Linked DNA regions of Homo sapiens: region 1 is reported to be linked to region 2. The links are microRNA targets in miRTarBase. Many come from high-throughput screens and were not tested one by one. Region 2 holds a microRNA gene; the other region holds the end of a gene's coding sequence.

Evidence for each region. The annotated mature microRNA hsa-miR-1291 reads UGGCCCUGACUGAAGACCAGCAGU and lies in region 2 at 2,337-2,360, opposite strand. An mRNA with a match to its seed (bases 2 to 7 or 8) in the 3' UTR can be bound and repressed. Matches are read on the target gene's strand: a 7mer-m8 pairs with bases 2 to 8, a 7mer-A1 pairs with bases 2 to 7 and ends in A, and an 8mer does both.
Region 1: miRTarBase lists S100A16 as a target of hsa-miR-1291. Seed matches in the 3' UTR shown: 7mer-m8 at 4,668-4,674.

What each region holds. Positions count from the first base shown.
Region 1 is chr1:153,602,772-153,608,149 of GRCh38, forward strand. It overlaps S100A16 (S100 calcium binding protein A16), which reads right to left. Exons shown (of 3, transcript NM_080388.3): 2 at 5,228-5,378; 3 at 4,115-4,921. The coding sequence ends at 4,763. Among named protein-coding and RNA genes, the nearest start is that of S100A16, 7.7 kb to the right of the region's middle. RefSeq lists an enhancer at 2,259-3,214.
Region 2 is chr12:48,652,158-48,657,535 of GRCh38, forward strand. MIR1291 (microRNA 1291) reads right to left here and starts at 2,373; the gene lies at 2,287-2,373. KANSL2 (KAT8 regulatory NSL complex subunit 2) reads right to left here. Exons shown (of 10, transcript NM_017822.4): 9 at 2,784-2,903; 10 at 1,054-2,018. The coding sequence ends at 1,887. SNORA2C (small nucleolar RNA, H/ACA box 2C) reads right to left here and starts at 2,361; the gene lies at 2,225-2,361. It overlaps SNORA2A (small nucleolar RNA, H/ACA box 2A), which reads right to left and starts at 4,625; the gene lies at 4,491-4,625.

The DNA of each region.
Region 1 (5,378 bases), not on the chromosome of region 2:
CAGTTGTTGTTCAAAGGGTATAGGGTTACAGTCGTGCAAGATGAAAAAGTTCTGGAGATCTTTTGTACAATGTATATACGGTTAACAATACTGTAATGCACACTAAAAAAAGAGGTAAATTTGTGTCTTTTTTACCAGTTGACAGATAGCGATAGATAGATAGATAGATAGATAGATAGATAGATAGATAGATGATAGATAGATAGCAGATAGGTAGATAGGTAAGTAGATAAATAGATGATAGATTGATAGATACATAGATGGATGGATGGATAGATAGATAGAACCACCCCCCTCCCCCCGCCACCAACAAGACATGTTAACTCATTCTTTATCATTCAGTCAAGGTAGCATAGTAGGCCGGGCACGGCAGCTCATGCCTGTAATCCCAGCACTTTGGGAGGCTGAGGCAGGTGGATCTCTTGAGGCCAGGAGTTTGAGACCAGCCTGGCCAACATAGTGAAACCCCTTCTCTACTAAAAATACAAAAATTAGCTGAGTGTGGTGGCGCCAGCCTGTAATCCCAGCTACTGGGGGTGGGAAAGGAGGAACAGTACAACACCTTGAGTGCCACCCTGTTCCAGGGCAGATCAATTTTAGAAGGCTGAGGATCTGTAAGTGGATGCCAATAAAACTATTGTGCCTGTGCATCTTTTTGGAAAGTCTTAAGCTGTTCCCATTTAAAAACTGCTGATGCCCAGTTCTGCAGGGTGGGTTTCCTACTGGGATCTCCCTCAGTGCAAGAGCAGGGGAGAAACCAAGGAACTGGCAATGTCCCCTCCAGCAGCTGCAAGTCATGGCTTCCATTCCACCTGGCCTCCCACACTCCTTCTTCCTTGCACCTCTACTTCTCCATCCCACAACTTCTGTCTGTATCGGGATAGTCTACTAATGAGAATTCAGAGCCTCAGTGCCACTCATGGCTCAAGACTAAGGGTCATGGGGGTTCCCTCTCTTGGCTTTGGAGCCCCCCTCCCTCTGTCTCTGTATAGGGGAGCTTCTTCCTTCTCCCTTCCTTCTTGTCCCTCTTGCCTATTAAACTCTCCGCTCCTTAAAACCACTCCACGTGTGTCCATGTCGTTTTATCTAAACTGGCATGAGCACCAAGAACCCTGGTGTTCCTCCACTCATCAGAGCCGTATCATTTTAGTGCGTTGGCCAGGAAAGGAAATTCGTTCATCAGACTGAGTCAAGGAAACTTATTTTAAGCTATTTGTGGCCTTTAATAATTGAGTAAGGTGTACTCCTATGAACAAAATTTGGAGCATGTTTATTTCTCTGCCTGGTTCCTCTAGAATTTGGAAACTATCTGAATCAAGCTTGACAAGCAGAGCCAATAAAAGCCGCTTTGGGAGAACTGGCCTCATACCTTGTCTACACAGTCTCTGGACAGGGTTCCTAATCTGTAGTCAGTAAAGAATGTCATTTTTTAACACGTCTGGGAGCTCCGAGTTTATCTTGGGACCTCAAGAGGAGAGGATCACCCAACTAACAGGTATTTGAGGTTTGTATCCTCAAATACAAACTTTAGGCTTTAATAGTCTTATCTGAAATTCCTTGTGAAACAGAGTTTCATCAAAGCCAATCAAAAGGCCTGTGTACAAATAACCATTCTTGCTGCACTTTATGCAAATAATCAGGGCAAGTATAAGACTACAGTTTATTCATAACTTGTTTTTACCAAGAACGAGGACTAGAGAGAAAAATTGTGCTCCAAAGCTTATCATACATTTTTTTGTTTTTTGTTTTTGTTTTCAAGCTTTTCGCCTACATTTTAGACTAACCCTGCTTATTCCTGTGAATCAAGCAGTGATCTCCTGCAGCTTGGAAGAAAAATTAAGGGATGGGTAATATAAAATCTGAATCAATATATTAGTTCTGGGCAATTATTCTGCAAATTCTACCAGGTAATAAAAGTGAGTAGGGTGCCCATAACCCAGAGGTTTCTTCGTTTAGGAAAATAAAACCAAGGAACTTCATAGACCCCCAAAGGGGAATTCTATATCTTGACAGGTAAAAGTTTAGATGGAAATTATCTACCACACCACACTTATGGAAATAGCTATACTCACTCTATTATTTGCAATAGGATTATACATGGTAGCACCTTCTAACTGAAATATTAAACAGAGAGTTTCCATTGCTGTCATATTTTGCTTAATCATTATCCTTATAGCAGGGATAATAGCTACTAATGAAAAGGAAGCATAAAAGTTTTACTACCACTGAATCTGCTAGGACTTTTTATTGGGTTTAGTGATGCAGTTTTCAATGAAACATGCTGCTTTCGGATTAATGCCTCTAGTTAAAAGAAAATCTACAAGTACTTAAAAATCAAATCAAAATTATTGATCCCCGAGTGGCTACAATGCCTCTTTAATAAATTCCAGTCTTCTTTATGGAATTGGTTAACCCCTTTATTAAGCCCTCTCTTGCTTATGTGTCTTGTATTGATATTTGGACCCTGTATACACAATACTATAACTCAAATTGTTTCTTCTCATCTAGAAGCAATCAAACTCCAAATGGTGCTGTAAACAGAACCACACATAGACACATCATTCTTCTGAGGACCCTTAGATTGACCCCAGGAGGAGCCCTAGCTGCTCTTCCCCATTCGACGCCCTTTTGCAACAAGAAGTAGCCAGAAGGAGTCGTCGCCCAAAACTCCCTAACAGCAGTTAGTGTGGCATCTCCACAGGGGGGAATGTTGTAGGAGTTATTAAGAAATTATTTTAGGCAGATAGAGAGGAAAATGGGTCCTTGGGTCCTTGGGAAGTTTTTTGTTTTGTTTCTTTTTCTTTTTTTTTGAGACGGAGTTTTGCTCTTGTCGCCCAGGCTGGAGTGCAATGGTGCGATCTTGGCTCACCACAACCTCCGCCTCCTGGGTTCAAGCGATTCTCTGGCCTCAGCCTCCCGAGTAGCTGGGATTACAGGCATGCGCCACCACGCCCGGCTAATTTTGTATTTTTAGTAGAGACGGGGTTTCTACATGTTGGTCAGGCTGGAGTTTTCATTTTTTTGAAGCATCTCCAGAAAAGTTTCTTGTAAAGCCCCGGCTCTTAGAGCCAGGTTGGCAACCTTTGATATGCAAATGCAAGCCCTTAGAAACTGGGTCCACCCAAACATGGTGATTCCCCCGGCCTTCTTGCCCTTTCCCCACATGTTCCTGGCAATGTGGCTGCCCTCACATATCCCCAGGTGTGTAGACCTGCATTTGCATATTAAAAGGCTAGGGTGGGGCAAGGTGCGGTGGCTCACGCCTGTAATCCCAACACTTTGGGAGGCCGAGGCGGGCGGATCACCTGAGGTCAGGAGTTCCAGACCAGCCTGACCAACATGGAGAAATCCCGTCTCTACTAAAAATACAACAAAAATAGCGGGGTATTGTGGCACATACCTGTATTCTCAACTACTCGGGAGGCTGAGGCAGGAGAATTGCTTGTACCCGGGAGGCGGAGCTTGCGGTGAGCCGAGATTGCACGCCATTGCACTCCAGCCTGGGCAACAAGAGTGAAACTCCATCTCAAAAAAAAAAAAAAAAAAAAAAAAGGCTAGGGTGTGAGGGCCAGCTTTTTCCGAGGGCTACGTGAATGACACGCATAGTCAAACCAATCCCCTGAGCCCTATACAAATCAGACTCCTCCTCCTCCAGCCTCTGTATATATACCTAGATGGTATCTGTGGCAGGTGGGGTTCCCTCTCTCAGCTTTGGGGCCTCCGTCCCTCTGTCTCTGTACAGGGGAGCTTCTTCCTTCTCCCTTCCGTCTTGCCCCTTCTTGCCTATTAAACTCTCCGCTCCAAAAAAAAAAAAAAAAAAAGACTAAGGGTCATGGTCCCTCTCTCGTGGAATTGCAGTGAGGACTAAACGGGACTTACAGTGTGCCTGGAAGTTGAATTTGAGTCTGAGTCTGGGCTAAAAGGGCCCAGAGATGGTGACCTAAGGCCTTTGGCCCTTTATGGAGGAGGATGGAGGGAGCTGCTGGCCCACAGCTGACAGTGCCTGTTGGAATTTAGGAGTTCTGGCTCCTTTCTTGCTCTGCCTTTGAGGTTCTTCTGTGAGATTCTCTCTTATCACAGGGCCCAAGGGCTAAGACCACCAAAGCATAAAACGTTTCCAAGGAGTGGGAAGGTTTTAATGAGCATCCCAGAGGGACCAGGGGATACAAACTCCAAATCCAGCCTTTATATCATCATTATTTCAAGCAACAGGAGGAGGCTCAGCCTTGCTTAGCTCATTCCCAGATGAAGAGGCAGCTGGAGGGAAGTCCCTGAAAGTGCCTCTCTACCCAGCAGAGGGGCTAAGGGAAAGTGGAGAGGTCTCTGCTGCTGCTGCTGCTGCTGCTGCTGCTGTTGCTGCTACCACTGCCACCAAGAGCAGGGAGACCTCAAGCACCAAGCTGACCTTTGGAGGTCAGGACGGACCCAGAATCAGGCAGGAATTTGGCAGGAACATCAGACATTGGAAGGTTAGATGAGACTGAACAGGTGAGAAAACTCTTAGGGTCCCCAGACAGCATTGAGATCTCACAGAGGGGCCCCAAGGGCCTGCGACTCCAGGAGCTGAGACCCCCCAGGGAGGGAGGTACCTCTAGACTGAGACACTCACAAAGGGACCCCAGTTCAGCAAGGGTCAGAGGAAGGTCTGGAGGGAGAAGAGAGTAAAGGGCCCTGGGTGGGCAGGAGGCTGAGGAGGGAGCCTGGGGAGAGCACCAGGGCGGGGCATCAGGCCAGTGCCTGGAAGGTGTGGCCAAAGGGGTCTCTAGCTGCTGCTCTGCTGCTCCTGCTCATGGATGAGTTTGGCGATGGGGCCGGTGATGCCGCCTATCAAGGTCCAGTACTCATCGAAGCTGATGCGCCCATCATGATTGGCATCCAGGTTCTGGATGAGCTTATCCGCAGCCTTCCGGTTCCCTGTGTCCTGGGGAGGAAGCAGGGTCAGCAATGCTGATGGTGGAAGCCCCAGAGAGACTCCAGGCAGGACCCTAGGCAGAGACCCAGGATCTGGCCTGCACAGCTGCTTCCCTTGGGAAATGCAAATATAGCCCTCACTGGCTAGGCCTAAGCATCCTGAGAAGACAGAGGCCTGGGGGTGTAGAAGACCCTGGAGTTAGCGGGGACACTGGAAGGATAGAGGCCTCAGCAGGGAAAGACACCCTCAGAGGCCAGAGGCTTGCAGGGGAGGGAAGGGGAGAGGGAGGCAAGGCCCTTGGGTGAGAGGCCTTACCGACAGCATGTGGTTCAGCTCTTTCTGGAGCATCTCGCGGAAGCTGCTCTTGCTGATCTTGTTCTTGACCAGGCTGTACTTAGACACATATTTGTAGAAGTTTTCCACCAGGACAATGACTGCCTTCTCCAGCTCCGTGTAGCAGTCTGAC
Region 2 (5,378 bases):
ATCACATCTCAAATATAAACACACACATAAATAAAAAGTAATGTTTGTCTTTGTGGATAAAGTATAAAATGCACTAGACTAGGCTAGGCATGGTGGCTCACACCTATAATCCCAGCATTTTGGGAGGCTGAGGCAGGCAGATCACCTGAGGTCAGGAGTTCGAGACCAGCCTGGCCAACATGGCAAAACTCCATCTCTACTAAAAATACAAAATATAACCAGGCATGGTGGCACATGCCTGTAATCCCAGCTACTCGGGAGGCTGAGGCAGGAGAATCATTTGAATCTAGGAGATGCAGGTTGCAGTGAGCCGAGATTGAGCCACGGCACTCCAGCCTAGGTGACAGAGCCAGACTCCGTCTCAAAAAAAAAAAAAAAAAAAAGTACTAGACTAGAGAATCAAAAAAGCAGTGGGAACTACAAACTTAAAAAGAGTATCACTGGAAGACCCAGTAAAGGCAATCTCCCCAGTGGTTCATCTGATGGGCCTTTTATGAGTTACTTTCAACCATTCTCTGAATGTAAATGCTTAAAGTTAAGATGATGGTATAACTGTAAGCCATTCTGTGCCCATTTCAGTTCTTATAGAAAGTAATCTTTTGCCCTCCTTGTCATAATGCAGTATAGAAATAGACAATTTCTAGCATAGGTACCTCAACCCTAACTGAACTTCTATTTTAATCCTGCTCTAAGATTCAGTGTCAAAACGATCTTGACAATACCTATCTATGTCTATCTTAGTGATCCAGCATCAGGCCCAATTTCTCTATGTTTTAAGTATATTCCTACCACTAGAGAATTCTGAGATGGTATTAGCATTATTTTTTTAAAAATAATTATTTAAAATTTAAAAATATAGACACAGGGTCTCACCACATTGCCCAGACTGGTCTTGAAGTCCTGAGCTCAAGTGATCCGCCTACCTCAGCCTCCCAAAGTGCTGGGATTACAGGCGTAAGCCACCACGTCTGGCAGAGATGGCATTGGCATTAATCGTGAGAAATGGGAGTGGGTGTAGGAGACACAGAGTGGAGGGTAAAAAGAAGAAAGATATTTGGAACTGATGGGCTTTAATAAGTCCTGCCCCTTTTCATTTACTTCTTCCTTCAAAGCAAAACCAAAATGAGCTACTGAAGATTTATTTACTTCTTGGGATGGAAGTATCATCTGTCCCAACTTCCCTTTCCCATCAGAGACAGGTCCCCAAAACCGCGAAAAAGAAACTATATTCTCAAACAAAACATGCATTCAATTCAGGTGACTGTTTGATATTTTCATAACATTTTCTTTAACATTTAATAGAAACTATATACAATAAATTTTTACTATATTTTACATAAGATAGCAACCACAGAAATTTACATAGGTTAAAAGCAAGACGGATAAGGAGGACCCAGTCCTGTGGGCTGTTTTCTCAGAGGATAAAAAGCCAGAGTTCACCAGGGAAAGGGGTTAAAGACTGCCCAATTAAGTAGAGGTGAAGAAAAGCTAAACTGCAGGTCTTCAGATAGAGATAACCGATATTAGGGCCATCAGTATCTCAAAGACACCACTCACAAAGACAGCTCCCACCTAGCTACTTAAGTGGATTTCTATCCATGACTTGGGAAATCCCATTACAAAGATGTCACTTTCCTTTTAGGTATAGTCCCAAATAATCCCAGAAGCTTTGATAGGGATTATCTCTCTTTCTCTTCCTTGCCCTGAGTGGGAAGAAACCCACGGTCCACGTCCTCAAAATTTGGCTTTACGTTTGACTATAATACTCAATCCAGAAGAAAAACAAGGTAGTCTGGGTTGCCTGTGTTTTGTGAGAGATGATCAGAAATACTTCTTTGAAGAACGAGAAATTTAAATCCACCAAAGTAAAATGGTTCCCCAAACTATCAACTAATAGAAGTGGGTTCTGGCTTCCCATTTGCAGTAGCCAATCCACTCTGAGACAATGGTGCAGAGGCTTTCTCAGAATTTCGAGATCCCTGGGATCTGCACCCATCTCCAGCCATCTGCATCTGGCCCTGTTAAAAGAAATAAAGGCACTTCAGTTAGTAATTCATTCACTGTGGTCTGAAGTATGAATCTGACTTATCAGTGGCCACTTAAACTAGCAATAAGAACAATACAACAGAAATTAATTCTGGACAGATGCTCTTCCCATATTAGCTATCCTAGTCCCTTGGAAGAGCCTATTCCTGAGCCTCTTCCAATGGGATGGTGAGCTGTAGGTTGTTTCTTCCAAATGAAATAGCCATTCCCTACTGAGGTCCCAGAACAGCCAACAGACCACAGGAAGACAGTCCTTTAGGCCTCTGCTTGAAACCAACAGCCACAGTACAACTGCTGGTCTTCAGTCAGGGCCACTGGAATTCTACCCAAGGCTCACGGACAGAACTCAAATCACATTACTTTACTGGTCCTTCTACAATGAGAACAATTTCAGTGATGAACTCTCCCTCAGAAGGTATGATTTCCCTAGATTCCTTGTCTCAAGCTTTTATTTAAATAAATGTATGTCCTACTCTGGGATATGAGGATCACGGGCCATTAGGTGTTCTAAGAGCCCATCTGGAGAACTACAGCAACAAGGGTACACAGGAGCAGAGTAGGGCATTTTTAAAAGTGCTTTGCTTATATGGTATTCAATAAGTGAGAGACATGTGGAGCATCTTTATACTAGTGATGACACCCCACTCCCCTCCAGGAGCACATGCTATCTAGCAGGGAACCCTCTGCCTGGCCAGGTCACTACATGAGGGAAACAGGTGGGACTGTTCTTCACTTGCCAAAATATCCACTGGGTCTTCAGCAATTTCTTTGACTAAATGATCTTCAAGGGTTAGTGAAGGATCAAAAAGCAAAGGTGAAGGAGGACACTGCATACCATCACCCACAACATCCAAGTCCTAGAAAAAAGAGAAAAGCCCATCAGCAATACCAAGGGAAACAGTAATAAAGTTGGCATGTTTTTCAGCAAACTTTAAAGCAATACTCTGCTGTCTCCCTCAACCCTAGCCTACCTTTAATAAAAAAAAAATTTTACAAGAGCGTCCAACAAATGAAACAAGATCCAAAAGCACTGAGAGCTTTTGCTGCCAAGTGTAAAACATAGACCAATACAGTAGATTAAAAAACAAAATTCTGGCCACCACACCTCTAATCCCAGCACTTTGGGAGGCCAAGGTAGGCATATCACTTGAGCCCAGGAGTTCAAGACCAGCCTGGGCAACATGGTGAAACCCCGTCTCTACAAAAACTGCAAAAATAAGCCAGGCGCGGTGGCACACACCTGTAGTCCCAGCTACTCTGGAGGTTGAGGTGGGAGGATCCCTCAAGCTTGGGACGCAGAGGCTGCAGTGAGCCGAGACTGCACCTCTGCACTCTAACCTGGGTGGCAGAGCCAGACCCTGTCTCAAAAAAAAAAAAAATTCTAGGAAAATTCACAGAAACACAAAGTAGAAACGGAGAATAGTAGGGAACAGGGGAAAGGGAAAGGAGAGAGTTACTGTTTAAAAAGTACAAAGTTTCTGTTTGGGTTGATGAAAAAGTTCTGGAACAGAAAATGGTGATAGCTGTACAACATGGTAAATGTTCATAACACCACTGACTTGTACACTTAAAAACGGCCAGGTGCAGTGGCTCATGCCTATGATAACAACACCTTGGGAAGCCGAAGTGGGAGGATCACTTGAGGCCAGGAATTCAAGACCAGCCTGGGTGACACAGCAAGACTCCATCTCTACCTACCCACCTACTTACACACATACATACATAGGTTAAAAGAGTAAAATTTTGTTATGTATGTTTTACTACAATTAAAAAAATATTTTTTAAAAAAGCATATTCTCTGAGGCTACCTGTAATGAACATGTAAGTTCACCAGTGATTAATTTAAATATGAACAATGCTACGTTAAAATTAAATATTGCTGGGTAATACAAGATTGCCTGATTAATATCCTAACAGCCACAAAGCAAGCAAACAAGCTCCAACAAGGGAAAGGGAGAAGGTAGGAAGAAAGGAAGGACAACAGAAAACTCACAGTTCCTCTGAATGGCTAGGAAATATTATTTTGGTTAAGTCCCTATCCCGACAGAGCAACAACCTGGTTTTTTTTGTTTTGTTTTTTTTTTTTTTGAGACAGAGTCTCGCTCTGTCGCCCAGGCTGGAGTGCAGTGACGTGATCTCGGCTCACTGCAACCTCCGCCTCCTGGGTTCAAGTGATTCTCCTGCCTCAGCCTCCCCAGTAGCTGGGACTATGGGCGTGTGCCACCACGCCCAGCTAATTTTTTGTATTTTTAGTAGAGACAGGGTTTCACCATGTTAGCCAGGATGGCCTTGATCTCCCGACCAGTGATTGGCCCACCTCAGCCTCCCAAAGTGCTGGGATTACAGGCATGAGCCACCACGCCCGGCCAACTCCCTGGTTCTTAAGCCTAACATAGTTTTGCTCTGTAAAAAAAAAAAAAAAAAAAATGACATTACATTCTAGACTATGTTTCTTCCAACTGAATTGGCAATTCGCACTGGAATACTGAATAGCCAACAGACCACAAGGAAGACATCACTCTTAGCTCCTGTTTGAAACCAACAGCTACAGCAAACCATTGGTCTTGATTCAGGGCCTAAGGCAATACAAACTCAAACAATATATCAAACTAACTTTCATGCCACTGCTTTTCAAGAGTCTGGTGCTAAATTCTCCTTCTTCCTAAGAATTAAAAATATCCAGGAGGTTTGTACCCCCCTATGTTTAATCCAGTTTATAGATGCTCCGTGTTTCTATTCATCTAGCTTCACGAGAAGCTTAGTTCTACGCTTTTAAATAAATCTAAGAATTTGCAATCCTTTCCCATTTGTTGGTGTGCTAATCACCAAAAATGAGAATCACAACATCTTCACATTAAAGAATATATATAATTTTAAAATCTACTTAAAGCTGCTCAGGCCGGGTGCAGTGGCTCACGCCTGCAATCCTAACACTTTGGGAGGCCAAGGTGGGCGGATCATGAGGTCAAGAGATTGAGACCATCCTGGCTAACATGGTGAAACCCAGTCTCCACAAAAAATTACCAGCCTGGCCAACATGGTGAAACCCCATCTCTACTAAAAATACAAAAATTAGCCAGGCGTCTTGGCACATACCTGTAGTCCCAGCTACTCAGGACACTGAGGCAGGAGAATTGCTTGAACCCAGGAGGCAGAGGTTGCAGTGAGCCGAGACTGCACCACTGCACTCCAGTCTGGGCAACAGAGCAAGACTCTGTCTCAAAAAAAAATAATAAAATAAAGCTGCTCAATTTAAGCAGAAACATAGGGCACAGGATACACTCAACCTACCATTCATTTTCAGGTGAGTTGGAAACTTCTGTACTACCCAC